Linked DNA regions of Homo sapiens: region 1 is linked to region 2. Evidence: fine-mapped expression QTL. A gene starts in region 2. The other region holds a variant in brackets. All regions are shown on one strand. Distances are between the middles of the regions.

What was found. PIP is the estimated chance that this variant, and not a neighbour inherited with it, causes the effect. A credible set is the group of variants that fine-mapping cannot tell apart.
Region 1: its variant is the best candidate, but not a certain one, in a credible set for the expression of MECOM-AS1 in stomach (GTEx, PIP 0.82).

Annotation. Positions count from the first base shown.
Region 1 is chr3:169,472,795-169,481,309 of GRCh38, forward strand. The region is part of intron 1 of MECOM (MDS1 and EVI1 complex locus); the gene reads right to left. It overlaps MECOM-AS1 (MECOM antisense RNA 1), which reads left to right. Exons shown (of 5, transcript NR_134932.1): 5 at 4,092-4,258. Among named protein-coding and RNA genes, the nearest start is that of MECOM-AS1, 29 kb to the left of the region's middle. The variant C/T (reference allele first, on the strand shown) is at 4,767.
Region 2 is chr3:169,444,627-169,453,141 of GRCh38, forward strand. It overlaps MECOM-AS1 (MECOM antisense RNA 1), which reads left to right and starts at 3,241. Exons shown (of 5, transcript NR_134932.1): 1 at 3,241-3,309. The region is part of intron 1 of MECOM (MDS1 and EVI1 complex locus); the gene reads right to left.

The sequences.
Region 1 (8,515 bases), 28 kb after region 2:
TTTTCAAATTGTTCAATTTATAGAAAATCCTAATCATGTGTTTAACCGACATAAAGTTCAAAGACAAGGTCTTAATGACTGCTTACTATTGTGGTAAGACAAATATGTCACATGTTCTAAAAATCAATCAAAATATTTACTAGGCCCCTACTTTGTCCCTACCTGGTAGTTATCAATATGTAGACACCACCCAGATACCATGCCAAATGTCAAAGATTTTTAAATCAGAGAAAAACCTAGAGAAGGAGTCATTAGCATCCAACAGTCTCCTGGTTTCCAAAAGGAGGTCCACCACAGTGGTTCCAACCTGTGAGAGAATCAAAAGTAATCTTGGAAGCTTTGTCAGAAATACAGAATCCTGATTTCTACATTAGATCTCTAAGGTAAATAAGGCTGTCTGGAAGTAGATTCAGGAATTTGTACTTTTGAAACTTCTCTGGTGATCAGAATGATCACCCTATCTACAAACTGCTGATTTATCTGGCCTTCATCCTAATCCACAGGCTAGCCAAAAACACAAGAGCGAATATATGAGGTTCCCAGCCACTGAAAAAAGAGAAAAGAGAGACCACTATCCCTAAATATTGTGAAACTTGAAATTCAGCAACACGATTTTGAGAACATTAAGAAGTCACTACTTTCTTGCTGTCCTACAGGTTAGGCGAAGGAAGAAATATGTTTAAACACCAGATACGGCAGGGCGTGGTGGCTCATGCCTGTAATCCCAGCACTATGGGAGGCTGAGGTGGGTGGATCATGAGGTCAGGAGATCGAGACAATCCTGGCCAACACAGTGAAACCCTGTCTCTACTAAAAATACAAAAATTAGCCGGGTGTGGTGGCACACACCTGTAGTCCCAGCTACTCAGGAGGCTGAGGTAGGAGAATCACTTGAATCTGGGGGGCAGAGGTTGTAGTGAGCCGAGATTGCTCCACTGCACTCCAGCCTGGTGACAGAGCCAGACTCCCTCTTAGAAAAAACACAAAAACAAAAACAAAATACCAGACACTATTAGTTTTGGGTACAAGAGAGGGAAGCCAATTACACATATAGCAAAAGAGAAGGAAGAATAAATACTATATATATGTAGTATTCATTATATCTATAGATAGATAGATAGATAGATAATTGAATCTATAGACAGGTTCTCAGAGAGAAAGAATACGCTCGCATCTTTCCTCCCTTTTCCTATGAGCACGACTCAACAGGACAGATTGGGTCAGTAGCTTAGGTAGAAATGGTCCAGGTTTGAGAATGCTAATGAGCATGTCAAACAATTTAGTCAGTCACCACGTGCCACCTCTCATTCACAAGATGAATTTCTTTTGTAGTGGCACATTGAAGGGAGAGGTTTAAATAGACCTTGTGGAAGGATCTGCATCAATAATAATTTCCAAGCAATCCCACTAGGAAGACAACTGTCTAAAGTCAGCCGAGAGAGCAAACAACAACAAACTTCATTACTATCTTTGGTATTTTGTAAACGTCAGTTCCTGAAGTCCAGCCTTCCAGCCTAATGCTCCATACTAGAAAAAGCCACTTACCCAACACCCCTATCATTCTTTCCTTTTTTCAATATACGGTTTATTAATATAGATGTCAGTCTGTACTTACAACCCAACATAAAATATCCTTGAAAATGGAATGTCAACAGAATGGTAATATACCACCTTGGGTTGATGGGACAGTTTTATTGCAACAGCTTAATTTTTATCAATATTATATAAATTATATTGTTACAATCATATATATTTATGATTAGATATAAAGTAACTGCTTTTTCCCTAATGCTAAAAACTCTATTATGTGAAACCTTGGTGTTAAAAGCAGGGTTTGAGGTTGGCAGCCCATGTTTTGTGTAATAACTGCTAATCCTCCACCAAAGAAGAGAAATCATTTGGAAGATACAAAAACTCTGAGTTTTTTATGCTCTCTGAAACCTATGTCATCAATGTGGATTAATATTTGCCCCCAGAATGATTCTGCAGGTGAGAAGAGATAACTGATATATATTAGCTTAGTGTCTAGTACTTAACCACCCATTATGATGGTATCTAATCAATCTATATTGATATCTGTCTGCCTACCTCATAAAATCTGTAGGTAGATACTATTATCCCATATTACAGAATAGAATACTGAGGTTCGATAAAGTTACATGTATTACCCTAGATCTCATTGCTAGTAGGGGCCAAGCTGAGTTCCAATTTCAGTTTTTGTGATTCTTAAAGCCTGAACAACTCCTACTGTATTCTCCTCAGGCCAACAGTCTGAATTACTAACACAGCACGTAAACAATCAGAACAGAGTCCATGTATTTATTGGTAACAAATGCACATACAAATCACTTGAAATTCCTTTTAATGATAACATAGCATATAATTCTATAGGGGAAAAAAGACAATTTGTGCTCTTATTTGTTGCCAATGGTTGCACTTCATTCTGAAAGTCATTTAATATTGAAATAAGTATCTTTCATGATTATCCTAATATAACCATTTTAGTTCTAACCCTGACAAGCAGCAAACTTTGTCCCCTGGCCCAACTTTATCAAGACGGTTGAAGTGTTTTTTTAAGTTATTCCCATTTTGCTTCTGGAAAAACTGGGCACAGGATGTTTCATGACCTTCCTCTTATGCACCCTGGGACTGAATTTGATCACAGTGACAAGCCAAACTGAGAATTTCTAAGGCCAGGAATACGGGCTGCCCTTTCTTTTAATGGACACATGGATGAAATGGTAATGTTTCCTTAGCACATTAAAAATAGTGACTAAAAAGTCGAAGTTTTTTTTTTTTCCGAATCTAATAGCTGTCTTAAATCGGGTAGAAAAGAAAGACGCAATCATTCCTTAAATGCATATTTAAAATTCACCAAGCCAAAGCCAGTCTTGCCAGATTTTGTAATCCTTTCCATAGTCTTTGTAAAGTACCTAGCTTGCCAATTAAAAAAAAAGGGGGAGGAGGAGGGAAACCTCAAGTGGTTTTTAACCACCAATAACAAAAACGACAAAGGTATTTTGAAACATCAGTTGCTGCTAGTTAGGAGCTAGCATGGATGTCTCTGGCTCAAAGATAATTCTTGCTCATGTTGGGTTTTTTTTTATTGCAACAGTATAAAATCAGATAAAGATAAATAAAATGAAATGGAAGCACAGAGATATTTGCTCTAAATATGGCTAAAGTGAATTTGTGGCTTGATGCCACTTTTCGCAGCTTTGTTCTCCCTAATCTAATTATGCCTTGAAGTTGTCTGCATTTGAGAAATTAATACTTTGATGAAATATCTAGCCAGTTCCATAAGCAGCAGAGGGAGAGGAAAGGGAAACATATATATAGTATTAACTCTGCCAGCCTTCAACCACCACAAGACCTCCTGGGCACAACAGTGGCCCACTAATAAAATGAAATGATAGCATATGTGCTTTGTTTAATTTTGATGTCTTCATAATGTATTACACAATTAGATTGATTTGACAATTTCCATTATGCTTGATAAAATATTTATTGAGCCCTGAAGATGATAACTCTTATCTAACCACCATTTGTTCTACAGATGTGACATATTTAATATATAAGTAACATCACTCAGATCTATGTTCCAGTTAGCCCATTACATTTTATTTGCAGAGTACAGTGTAAAGTCATCAATAACGCTTTGATAGATCCCTGTCTGCCCGGTGCTTGACAGGTGCGGAGAGAGCTTGCTCACATTCAGCGGCAGGGGCACATCAATCATGGCCAAGAAATTTACTGTGTGAAATTGGCCTCATCTGTCTCAATGCTTGATGCAGATCGAGTTTGTTCTTCTGATAGAGGTGTCGTTAGTCACCTAAGCATGCCTCCCTTGGTACTCATGCTCTCTGCAAGTAATCTTTTTTTTCTCCCCCTTCTCCCCCTTCCCTTTACATATTTTTGTGAAATTAAAATCTCGCCCTCCTGTGACCCTAATCCACATATTCTTGGCCAAAACAGGAGCCAGGTGACCTTTGAGATTACCCTTGTGAAGCCTTGCAGGTTGAGTGGAAGAAGATGCTATTTTTTGTTGATGCTGTTCTTTTTTTTTTTCTTTTTCTCCCCTAACCTCACAGGCAACATGTTCCACTGATGAGAAAACCGGCAAAGACAGGTTAGGCAGAAGAAAAGAGAGATGAGACAACGGACTGTGCCAACAAACTAAAATTTTACCTGCTGCTATGGATAAAATAGCTTTCTTTTTAGAAATACTCATGTTAATAAACTCCTACATGCGACATAATATGTGCCTAGAGGTCTGGATAAGTAAGATGTGTGTGTGTGTGTGTGTGTGTGTATATATATATATATATATATATATATATATATATATATATATACACACACACACAATTTCATTTGCAATAGGAAGTCTTCACACTGCAAAGGTCTAGGTAGATTCCTAGTTAAATGGCATTTCAAATTAAGGCATCTACCCCTGTCAAAGGAGAACTCCAAATGGTAACTGGCTCCCACAACTTCGAAGTGCTGCTGAGACCCTCATCAGCTTTTATCTTTGCGCCCCGTCATTCTCCCATGGGCAAAGAATTGCACAAAAATCTTGGAGTAAACACAAACAAGTGCCAAAATGAAGACCATCAATGATCCAAATCCTTGCAAGGTATAAAAGAGAATTTTTTTCTGAGTCCCGAAGTCAAGATTGTTATAGGCTGCAGGATTTTTATGTGAGAATGGAATTGTAAGATTAATCTTTGGCCAAGAGCACTTCTCTGTTTCTTGCAAAGGATTAG[C/T]TGACTTAAACTAGAGGCTCTGCGTCCTGCTCCTGGAGCTGCAGTCAGCTGTTTTTCCTTTGTGGAGCTTCCTGATATGCCCAAACACCTTTCTTCTTAACCTTTGTAGTTATTTCAGTATTTACTTCATTCTAAATCCTTATGCAGACTTTTTTTTTGCTTTCCAAGGCAAACCTTGTAGATAGCCAATCTGTACTGTTTCCACCAAATTAATGTGAGAGCTTGTTTTAGCAACTGCAAAACAAAAGTGATACACGGCTTCAATAAGACATATTATCTTCAGAACCTGTAAAAGTTGAGACTATCTCTAGACAAAGCGCAAGCACAGGATAGTCCTACCACTGCAGTCAAAATACCACAGAAGCTACATGCCACAGCAGGATGCCTGTCGGATAGACAATTAAAGTGGCCCAGGAATGACATATCCCCTCTTGCCAACATAATTAAGGTGTATTATTTGTCAGGGAGGTCAACGGTGAACAAATGTCCTAGCAAACTGAGAATGAAAGACAGGGAAGGAGCAGATAATGAAATTCAGGGATGACAAATGGCTCGGAGCCTGACACCGTGGCATCTGACAAAGAGAGACATCCAATGGCTCTGAAACTTTTCCTGGTGCTCTGGAAGGCTCTTGGATTTGGGGCATTTTTACATAAAGGATGTTGCATGTATCATTAATGTCATTCCATTTCCTTATAGAAAAGTATTAATATTGACAACTGTAGAAGAATGATATTGTCAAGGCAGAATTCAATATGCGGTATGGTTTTTGTCATGTGTACTCACTCTGCTGCTCCTTTGTGTCCTATCTACACTTGTTTTACAGCCACCTAGAGTAACCAGCCTATCTCCACTTTTCCCATTACTTGTTAATAGCTATTGTGCAGATAAAAATGCCTCAGAGTGACCTATAGGGACACCTCTGCCTTTGGCCAAGCACCCCCACAAGTGAGGGTACGAATACTTCCCAAGCTAAGCCAAGATTGAGTTATGTTCAGACAATAAGTATCACCAATTACTACCCTTCAGTTGTTCCCAGATACCAAAGGCTTAACCACCCACGGGAATAGCGACTGGTGCCTGCCACTTCCCTAAGGTTGTGTGTATTGTGCTAGGATATTTGATAGACTTGAGTATTATGGCTTAAAAAAACTATACAGGAGAAGGGATGCCAATTCCTAGGCTAAACCAGCTTCCTTTGTGAACAAATATCTGGGGGTGTTCCTCTGTGATAAAAACCATTTACGTCATTTTAGGCCCATTTTTAACCATACTGGGTCATTTTACAATTCAGAGAGCACAGATTAACCATACAGAGCCAGCAGTTATTGATGTGGAACACAGTAGGACTCCACAATCTTGTAATGCTACAATGATGTAGTCACTAATTTGTTTCTGCATCTAGCATTATTTATTCACCAAAATATTTGTTGATCACCTATTATGTACCAGGCATAGAACTGAATGGGAGGGCCACAGTAGTGATTCAGACAAACATAATCCCTGTCTTTACTAATACTGTAGCCAGAAAGACAGACATTAGCCAACATCTACCAAGATAACTAATTAGTCATAAATGTGATAAGTAGCAGGAGGAATGCTGGAAAAGCTTTTGACCAGCAAATCTAACATACGCTAGGGTCTCAGGCAGGAAGTGACACTTAAGGTGAGATATAAAGCAAGTAGGAATTCACATAGATAGGGATGTGAGTGTGTGTGTGTGTGTGTGTGTGCAAGAGACAGAGATGAGCAGCAACAAGAAGGAAAGGGAGGCGTCTAGGAACAGTATCTCAAGCAGAGGTAACAAAGACCCTAAGAAAGGAGAAAGTTTGGGTTGGTGGAGGAAAGAATGAAGCCCAGTGTGGCTGGAGCATAGACAGTGGAGGAGACGGTCACAAGGGTGAGGCTGGAAAGACAGGCAGGGCCAGACCATGCAAGGCTTTGAAGGCTCTTCTAAAGATTACGGCCTTCACATGCCTCTGCAATTAGAGAAAGCACTGGAAGTAAAGCCAAGCAGATATCAGCCAATGTGTCTGAGCAGTAAAGATATGGAGGTGAATGAAACGTCTCATTTTCAGATTTTCTCTTACCTAAAAAAAAAAAAAAAAAAAAAAAAATTTGCCTGATTCTCAGGCACAAATTTAGAAAGCAGACACATTTGGTGATATAACCACTAAAACTCATGCCTAATGTCTTCTAAATTTTATGGCCTTTTCCTTATAGGGACCTGAAAAGCTCTTGACAAGGCAGGAACGTGACTAATATAATTGAGCACATACTCTGTCCCAGGCACTGTGCCAGGCACCTTTAAAATCTCTTATTTTAATACTCACAAAAATGTTAAGACAAATTCCCCATTTTTTAACTGAAACAAATACAGAGTAAGTAAATTGTCCAATATCAGAAAACTACCAAGAGGCCTGAATGCTAATCCATCTGACTCCAGATTCGATGTACTTTCCACAGTGAAGACAATGGACTTTTTTCTACATTGATTCGCCTTTTGGTCAAAGTGGAGTCATCACTATTGGTATAAAAAAAGTATGATGATGGTTTTCTGTAGGTTGCCAAAGACTAACATATTGACATGTGAAGAATTCAAATATAATTGTGTTTTTTCAAGCAAGCTAGTGCTGTCTTCTTTTTATTTAATTGAAAGAGCTTCTTTATCACATATACTGTCCCATGAATACCTTCCATCCTAATCTCCACCTCAAAGCATTGGGCTCTACCTGCTAGCTTGCCTTCAACACTGCAATCTGAGTTCTTCAAGTACTACTGGAGTACTTCCCAGAAGTAGGAACAAAAGGATTTACAAGGTGTATACAGGTGGCTCGCTGGCCCTACACTGCTCTTCCTCCTTCTCATCTGCTCTCAGTCCACTGCTCCCCCAACCCCTTCCCCTGTGGCTGCCATTCCTCTCCTTCTCTTTCCCACTTTTTTTCTCATCTCTTTAGTCACTTTGCCCGTACCATTTATAATACCTCTTTACGTAAATAAGTTGGCCTTTTATATCACCAGCCATTTTTCCTTCCACTAGTCAAAGTATAGGATCCTTTAGTGTTCTCTGCTGTGTTTGTCCAAGCTGGTTGGTTGATGATAGGGCGACCTGGTAACCAATGAGGTGGGTGGTTTTTGTTCTTCAAAAAGGAGATGAAGGGAGATAAGCTGTTTCTGAGCCACATCCTAGAAGCCTGTGCTTTTCAGGAGGCTCCTCTCTGAAGATTAAGGGGCATATTTGTGGATGTGTGTTTTTTGCTGCTACTGTCTGCAGAGTGTCAAGGATCAACACATTAAAAGATGCCATTTTTCCTGGTGTTTCTGAGTTCTTGGGGCGGGGGGGCTTGTTTGTTATTTGTTGTTGTTTTGTTGAGTTTTGTTTTTGCTATCCTCATTAACAATACATGGCACAAAATCTTAAAACACGTTTCTGTACTTCACAAGTCAACAAAAAGAGAGTGTACATTTCTGTTTTAACCAGAAAAAGAATTAAACTTTATAAAAATAAATAACACCTGCCCCCCCAAAAAAGCAAATCATCACCCCAGGATGACAGAAAACATCGGTTAAAAAAACAAGTTAAGAAGTTTTTAAGCTGAACACAAATCTACTAATGTGTTAATCGGTCATGGACATTAGCCAATTCATGACTTTTAGCTGTATATCTTGGCATGTTAGGTTATGCTGGGTATTAAAAACAATTCTGAGACAATGTTGGGATTGGCAATTTTAAAAAAGCCTCAGCACTT
Region 2 (8,515 bases):
ATCAGCAGCATGAAAACAAGTAAATTGGTACCAGTAGAGTGGGGTGTTGCTGAAAAGATACCCGATGACTTTGGAACTGGGTAACAGGCAGAGATTGGAACAGTTTGGAGGGCTCAGAAGAAGACAGGACAATGTGGGAAAGCTTGGAACCTCTTAGAGACTTGTTGAATGGCTTTGATAAAAATGCTGATAGTGATATGAACAGTAAGATCCAGACTGAGGTGGTCTCAGATGGAGATGAGGAACTTGTTGGAAACTGGAGCAAAGGTGACTCTTACTATGTTTTAGCAAAGAGACTGGAGGCATTTTGCCCCTGCCCTAGAGATCTGTGGAACTTTGAACTTGAGAGAGATGATTTAGGGTATCTGGCAGAAGAAATTTCTAAGCAGAAAAGCATTCAAGAGGTGACTTGGGTACTGTTAAAAGCATTCCATTTTAAAAGGTAAACAGAGCATAAAAGTTCAGAAAATTTGCAGCCTGATGATGCAGTAGAAAAGAAAAACCCATTTTTTGAGGAGAAACTGAAGCCAACTGCAGAAATTTGCATAAGTAGGAAGACCATGGGGAAAATGTAACCAGGCCATGTCAGAGACCTTCATGGCAGCCCCTCCCATCACAGGCCTGGAGGCTCAGGAGGAAAAAGTGGTTTTGTGGGTGGGCCCAGGGTCCCCATGCTGTTTGTAGTCTAGGAATTTGGTGCCCTGTGTCCAAGCCACTCCAGCCATGGCTGAAAGGAACAAACATAGAGCTTGGGCTGTGGCTTCAGAGGGTGGAAGCCCCAAATCTTGGCAGCTTCCAAGTGGCATTGAGCCTGTGAGTACACAGAAGTTACGAATTGAGGTTTGGGAACCTCTGCCTAGATTTTAGAAGACGTATGGAAATGCCTGGATGCCCAGGCAAAAGTTTGCTGCAGGGACGGGGCCCTCATGGAGAACCTCTGCCAGGGCAGTGCAGTAGGGAAATGTGGGGTCACAGCCCCCACACAGAGTCCCTACCGGGACACTTTCTAGTGGAGCTGTGAGAAGGGGACCACCATCCTCCAGACCCCAGAATGGTAGATCCACCGACAGCTTGCCCTGTGCACCTGGAAAAGCTGCAGACAATCAGTGCCAGCCCATAAAAGCAGTCAAGAGAGAGGCTCTACCCTGCAAAGCCACAGGGGCAGAGCTGCCCAAGACCATGGGAACCCCCTCTTGCATCAGTGTAACCTGGATGTGAGACCTGGATTCAAAGGAGATCATTTTGGAGCTTTAAATTTGACTACCCCACTGGATTTTGGACTTGCATGGGCCCTGTAACCCCTTTGTTTTGGCCAGTTTCTCCCATTTGGAATGGCTGTATTTACCTAATACCTGTACCCCCATTGTAGCTAGGAAGCAACTAGGTTGTTTTTGATTTTACAGGCTCATAGGTGGAAGGGAGTTGCCTTGTTTCAGATGAGACTTTGGACTGTGGACTTTTGAGTTAATGCTGAAATTAGTTAAGACATTGGGGGACCATTGAGAAGGCATGATTGGTTTTGAAATGTGAGGACATGAGATTTGGAGGGGCCATGGGTGGAATGATATGGTTTGGCTGTGTCCCCACCCAACTCTCAACTTGAATTGTATCTCTTAGAATTCCCACGTGTTGTGGGAGGGAACCAGGGGGAGGTAATTGAATCATGGGGGCCAGTCTTTCCCTTGCTACTCTCATGATAGTGACTATGTCTCACGAGATCTGATGGGTTTATCAGGAGTTTCCGCTTTTGCTTCTTCCTCATTTTCTCTTGCCACTTGCCCTGCCATGATTCTGAGGCTTCCCCAGCCATGTGGAACTGTAAGTCCAATTAAACCTTTTTTTCTTCCTAGTCTCAGATATGTCTTTATCAGCAGCATAAAACCGAACTAATACAGACACTCTCCACGCTACACAAATAAGCCTGGTCTTCCACAGAGCCACCTTGCCCTGAGTTTACATCATAGAACTTGCTAAGCTACCCTCCCTTTCCTGATAATTAAGTGGGTAGTAGTTATGTGTGTTGTGCGTTATCTTTATCTACCTTTATTATCTTAAATCCCACACCTGCACCCACTGTGAGGTCACTATTACTGTTTTTTCAGTTAAGGAAATAAAGACTGAGAGAGCTTCTCATGATCATATACCTGGTGTCAGAACCAAGATTTGAACCCAAGTCTGCCTGATTCAAAAGCCCATGCTCCTAATGACTATGCAGTGCTACTGCCCTCATCCCTATCAGGATGGCTTGTTCAGGGGGTGCACCAAGCTTTAGGCACTCCCTGCACATGCCATTGTGGTTCACTAAGTGGAAAATTAATTAACAGTTACTGAATTTTCAGTTATTTTTTTCAGTATAATTTTGTCAACAAATAAATACTTACAGGTCTAAGAATTTTTTATGTTATGAAAAGGGATCCTCATTGTAAAATATTGAAATCCAACTCCTTCATTTTATCTACAATCTAGAAGATTCTACATTAGTTCAAGTCGTCCTCATCCTTGAGATGTAAAAGAAATTGCTCTGAACCACCCAATTTCTTGACCCCTTGTGAAGATGTCTACAATTCCCAAGGGTGGAAGAATTAAGTCTTATTGGTGCCCTCTGCCACCCATGCCCTAGAGTTCTCCTGCTCCACCTCCATCTTCTCCTATAAAAATGCACCTTCTCATTCAGTAGCTAGAAGGTGGCCAGGCAAAGCAGGCATTTTGTAAATTTTAGTTGACTGGGGGAGGGAACAGATGAATAATGCAGGATGTGAGGCTTTGTAGGTTAAGATCACAAGAAGAGGTGGATGGTTATCTACTATCTCCCCCCACCAAGAACTTTTCTGACTCTGAGTTTGAGATGTCCAAAGAAAGGCAGAATCATACCTTTCTCATTGATTCTTATGTTTACAAAGTACCTTTATAAAGCGTCTACTGTGTTCCAGGTACCATGTTAATTTCTAGAAGTAAAAATGTCAACTCTGTCACTGTCTTCAAGGAATCCATAGTGGGAAGCAGAGCACACAAACAGATGTTTACAGCACAACATGATGAGTGGTTTATTACACACAAAGTATTCAGGAAACAACTAAGAGGAAGAAAAACCATCTCCACCTGGAAAGACTGGAAAGGCTACACACCAGAGCTCAAATTTGAAATACATCTCGAACAAGGATTTGGCCATGCCAAGACAGTTGAGTGGAAGGAAGTACATTCTAGGCAAAGAAAAAGCACAAATGTGACCTACAAATGAAAGATTGGTGAGTAACTCTGCATAGCTGGAATATAGGCATAAAAGAGAAGGCAAGAAATGAAGCTGAAATGGTAAGTCAGAAGTGTATTATTTAAACCCTTGTTTGTGGTGCTAAATGGCTGGGCAACTAGGAGTCATGGTGTGATCAGATCTGTAGTTTGGAAATTCAACTGGAAACTGCTATGGATGAGAGCTAGGAGAGGGGAGAAATTAGAAGCTATTATAGTGATGATGGCAACCAATGGTGAGGTGATCTTTAGGTCATCACTGGAACCTGACCTATAGTAGACATTCAAAAAATATTTTCATGTAATTGAATTTGTCTCATGAGCTCCTTGATCTAATATACTGAGCAACTAGCCTTGCTACCATATCTTGTAAAATGCCACTCGTGTTATACGTTGTGGGAATGCTTAGGTGCCTGACCAGGATTTTAAGAAGATATAGAACTAACTTAGTATTTATTTATAGGTCGCCCATCACATGCTAAGCATCTTCTATACATTATCTCATTTGTGCCACACAACAATCCTTCAAGACAGTGTTTTCACCATTTTACACAGGAGTAAAATGATGTTCAGAGTAACTAATAAACAAATTTATCCAACTAGGGGTAAAGCCAGATTTTTAATTCAGTGTACATCTAACTTCAAAGGCACCTGTAAATTTGGGATATTATGGCAAGAGAGGTACTGGTAAAGCCACATTATCTTTAATCAAATATTTTAGAATAGCATCCACAGGAGTGTGCATGTGAGACCCCTGGCCTGGGAAGAGGAGTTTGCATCCTGATTTCCTTTTTCACTGCATATGGCAGCAAACCATAATGAGTCAGACATTGTCATAACACATTGCATAATTCCAATGAAGCATTCACATCTCAACTACTCTTGATTATTTCCAATTCCGTAATAAATGAAAGAGATCAACTGTTCGGTGGTTTGAGGAGGGTGGAAAATCATTTAATTCTTAAGTACCATTAAATATTTAATACTATTATAAGGAGGTAATGTCACTTTCCATAATACATTTGGCTTCAGGTACACTGGAATCCAGATTTTGACACCTCCATACCATGATAAATTTTTGACCCTGAAATTTTATTTGAAATCACGACTCCAAAATCTCCTGTAGCCAATCTACCAGGAGTAGTATCTGTCAACAGAGAGAACATCATATAAAGACCTTAACATTTTGAAAGCAAAGCCAAATGAAGCTCAATCACGAAAGGTCTTTTCTTTCTTTAAGGTGAGAGATGGAGCACAAATGAAGCATACCATGGTAAATAGGAACTGTGCTCACTTGCAGTCATGCACTATAGCCATTAAGCCTTAAGGTCTTAAGGTACTAAGCAATGCATATGATAAATTTCTCAAAAACATCCCAGCCATAACATAGTTCTTGCTGATTGCTCATTTACCCATAATGCATGCTGTCATAGCAAAGCCTGACAAATGACAGAGAAAGCTCAGGTTATTTTTTACACTGACTGCCAAGCCCCTCACCTCAGATTATTCATTTATTAGGGCAATCACTGAGGTCTGGGTACTTAATATTGTTTTCACCAAATATGAAAATGATCTACTTGCCTATTCTTTAGTTCCTCCTAGGGCAAGCCATTTATCATCAGCTCAGGATAAATGACTGCTTCATTATAGCTATAATTTATGAGGTGTTAGAAGTAAAGAGCCACGCCTAGAGACTTAAAGCTTTAATATGGATTAAAATAAGATAATCAATCAAGCTAATACAAATTTTCCCTCAGCATTATTTCTTGTTTTGAAATAGCTTAATAATTTGGTGAGGTGGCGGTAAGCTATGTTGAATATCCCATTATCCAACTACATGCATGTATGTCTGAGACAATACGTAAAGAAATATAGGATGTGATACCATCGGAAAAAAAGAAATACAATGAAACCATCAGCTGTAATTGGCTGAAATCCTCACTTTCCTTAATGGTGTCAAACTGGAGACCAAAGAATTACAAAGCAGGTGTAAACTTGGGTAGCATATTCCCTCTAATTCTTTTTCCTCTGTAAGAATATTGTAGAAAGATTGCTGCTGTTTTACTTTTCCTTATTCTCTCTACAACAAAGAAACACTGGGGAGAAAAGTTATGTCCCAATAACATGTCAACAATTTTGCTTTCTTTTATGTCTGAAGGTTTCACAACTCATAATTTGGACAAGAGCAGCTTCTTACTCTGTCTAGGGAATAAAGAATATTTCCCTCTAAAATGGCATTACGGACTTTAAAGAAATTTTTTCTGGTTTGCATCTCAATTTTATAGTTATTAGGCTATGCCAGAACAAATATTATTTCTGAAATATGTGTCATGCTCAAGACACTAACGTAAACCTATTTGGCCACTTGAGTGAAAAGCTTTGAAGACTGTACGGGAAATTCACGATTTAGTACTTTAAACACACAGCACCAGGAAGAAAATCACCACAAGAATTAACAAATCAGCAGTCTAAAGCCAAAGACTCCAAGGTGCTAATTAAAAAAGCTTCCAAAAGTTCTTGTTATTTTTTTTAAGGCCATGTTCCTTGCAGGTGAGACAAATAGGCCCCTGCTGCCTCCAAGCAAATCTTGAAGGAAACTTCCAGCAAGGCCTGGTGACTGGAAACTACTCAGCCTTGAAATTAACATCCCTAAGAAAAACCTTTTCCACTCCCTCTAGACAACAGCAGCTTACATCTTCAGGACAAAACGAAAAAAAAAAAATGATGACAAAAAAGAGGCCAGAGAAGACAGTTGGAGTAGTCACGCTGTGTTCTCTTGAAGGGAGCCTTCATTCTTTACCTCAGAGAGAGAGCGTGAAAACACACAGATCCTGACAATGGATTTAGTCAACGTGGCCAATCTCCCTACTTCCTTACACGTACATACCACTGAGTTTACCTTAAAAAAGTAAAAGCAGAAATTTTCACAAAAGCTGTGCATCAGGAGCTGTTATTACAAATGAGGCCAAGGCTCTGCATAAGAAGAAAAGGATCTTTCACAAGTTCATAATGGGAACCGAATGCAAAAGCCATATAATTATAATCCAGAATATGGCATCCTATGATATAAAATATTTCCACTTAGCTTAACTGTTTTCCATTCAATATTATTTCCAGCAATAAAAGCCTCTGGAATATCACTCAAACTGGTTCAAGTTAAATTCCAATCTAGATCTTTGTTAGCTAAAGGACATTTTTTTAATCCAGTCATCTTTCTCCACCCTACACATAATTCAACAACAGCCCTTCAACAGGGATAAAACAATTTAAGCTCTGAAGTTGTTCTATGCATGTGTGTGTGAGATTTTCATGCCCTATGTATTTGGACTGAAAATACTTCTCTCTGTCTCTCTCTCATTTAGACTTTATTTAAGATGGTGAAAAAAAAAAAAGCAAAATGTGATATTCACAAGTGCGCAGCATCTTATTTCCCATTTAAAAAGTATTCTGTAAAGAAAAGTCTTATACATAAAAAGAACTCTACTTGTAAAAATGAATAGGAATATGTACTATGAAAATATTAACCATCTTAGCTGTGAAGAGGTTCCAGTGGTTATAAAGAGAAGGGAAAGTAGATAGAAAGCTCTGGCTTGGCTGTTGGGTTTTTGGTTTGCTTGTTACATGTTTACCTGTTTGTTTAACACTACATATATCTCCAGGTACTCCACCATCCATGTCATCAACTGTGGAAAAATGTCCCATTCTTTCTTATGCCTATTTCTTAGAAGTTCCAGATAGTGAGGGAAAATATTCTAGGTCTCAATGAGCAATGTTATAAATTATATTTTGTATGCTACACTTTAGAGAGATGTCTTTAGTGTATTATACCATTGATGATTCTTGTGATTTTTATTTCTATGTAAAATACAGTTTACACAAAATTTCTATCGCTTAGTGAGACATTCATAATTACATATGAATAAGAATTACAGAAGACATTAAAATGTTTTCATAATAGATGTGGAAAAAAGCTATCCTGCGAGCATGTTTAAAATAGACATGGTTTGCCTTAAACTGAGGCATAAAGCCCCACTGCTAACTGATAATTTAAAGCACAAAGATGGGGAACTGTTTTTCTCCTTACTTCTGCTTGTCTGTTTATCTGATGAAATGTTCAAATAATTCCTCTTCTCAAAATACTAGTCTCTAGTAATGCTTTTTTATATATGTGATCCCTCAAGGTAGTCCTTCCCAAATAATAGCCATCGATTTTTAAAAAAACTTTGAATGGATCAAATCTTCCAATAGACATCAATCAATATTCTCAGATGCTTTGGTAAGCCGGGTCATCACTACTCACGGCCGATGCCCAACTACAGCTTGGTAGACTGGCAGAGCAAAGCTGATTTCTTTGAAAGGCCAAGTGATAGAGGTCAAGCTTGAGACTGCTTAGGAAACACACGCCTTTCCCTTATTTGTAGGACAAAAATGATTGTTAAAAATTTTTAAATTAAATAAGTTAACATTTTAAAAATTAAATAAGTTAACATATGGGAAATCCATTGGTAAACTGAAATGCACTACATAAATCTATGATGGATCAATGTTGATATTATTATTTCTGTTAATTATATTATGCATCTTCCTTCATGAGTCAGTCAGAATTTAGAAGATATTTACATTGTATTGGAATTTGTTGATTCAGTTCTAGGAATACAAACTCAGCATCTACCACGTAAAGGAACACAGTACTAGACACAAAGGGGATGTGTATCATGGATGTCAAGTCCCTGCTTTCTAGTAGCTCACAGTTTCAAACAACTAAAATGCAGTTCTGCGCCGGCTTCAGAGGGGCCAGGTTTCCCACAAGGCCTGGAATTGACCAATAGCTGAGCACACATACTTGCCATATATTTCTTGAATGAGTGAGTGAATGAATGAATACCTAATTTGGCTAACCCTGGGTATCATCCTTATTTTCATCATCTACTAAAAATTAGAGTTGAATATTTCTATTTTTCTGTAAGGTTTGAAAATAACAAAAAATTATTTTCAATAAGCTAGGCATGAGAAAAAGCAATGGCAGCTACATATTTTTCCATAGCTTTCATTCCCTAATCACTTCTTGCATAGTTATACACAGAACTTTAACTGCTGGCTTTTTAAGGGAAATTTCTCAAATGCAAACAAATATATTTCACCAAATAAAATCCTTACATGAATGGAATGGGAAATAGTAACTTAGATGTAAACTGCTAAGTTACCAATTAGCTTCTTAAAACAATTGAAAGTCACAGAGAGCCCTCAATATACAGAGGTGGTTAATTAA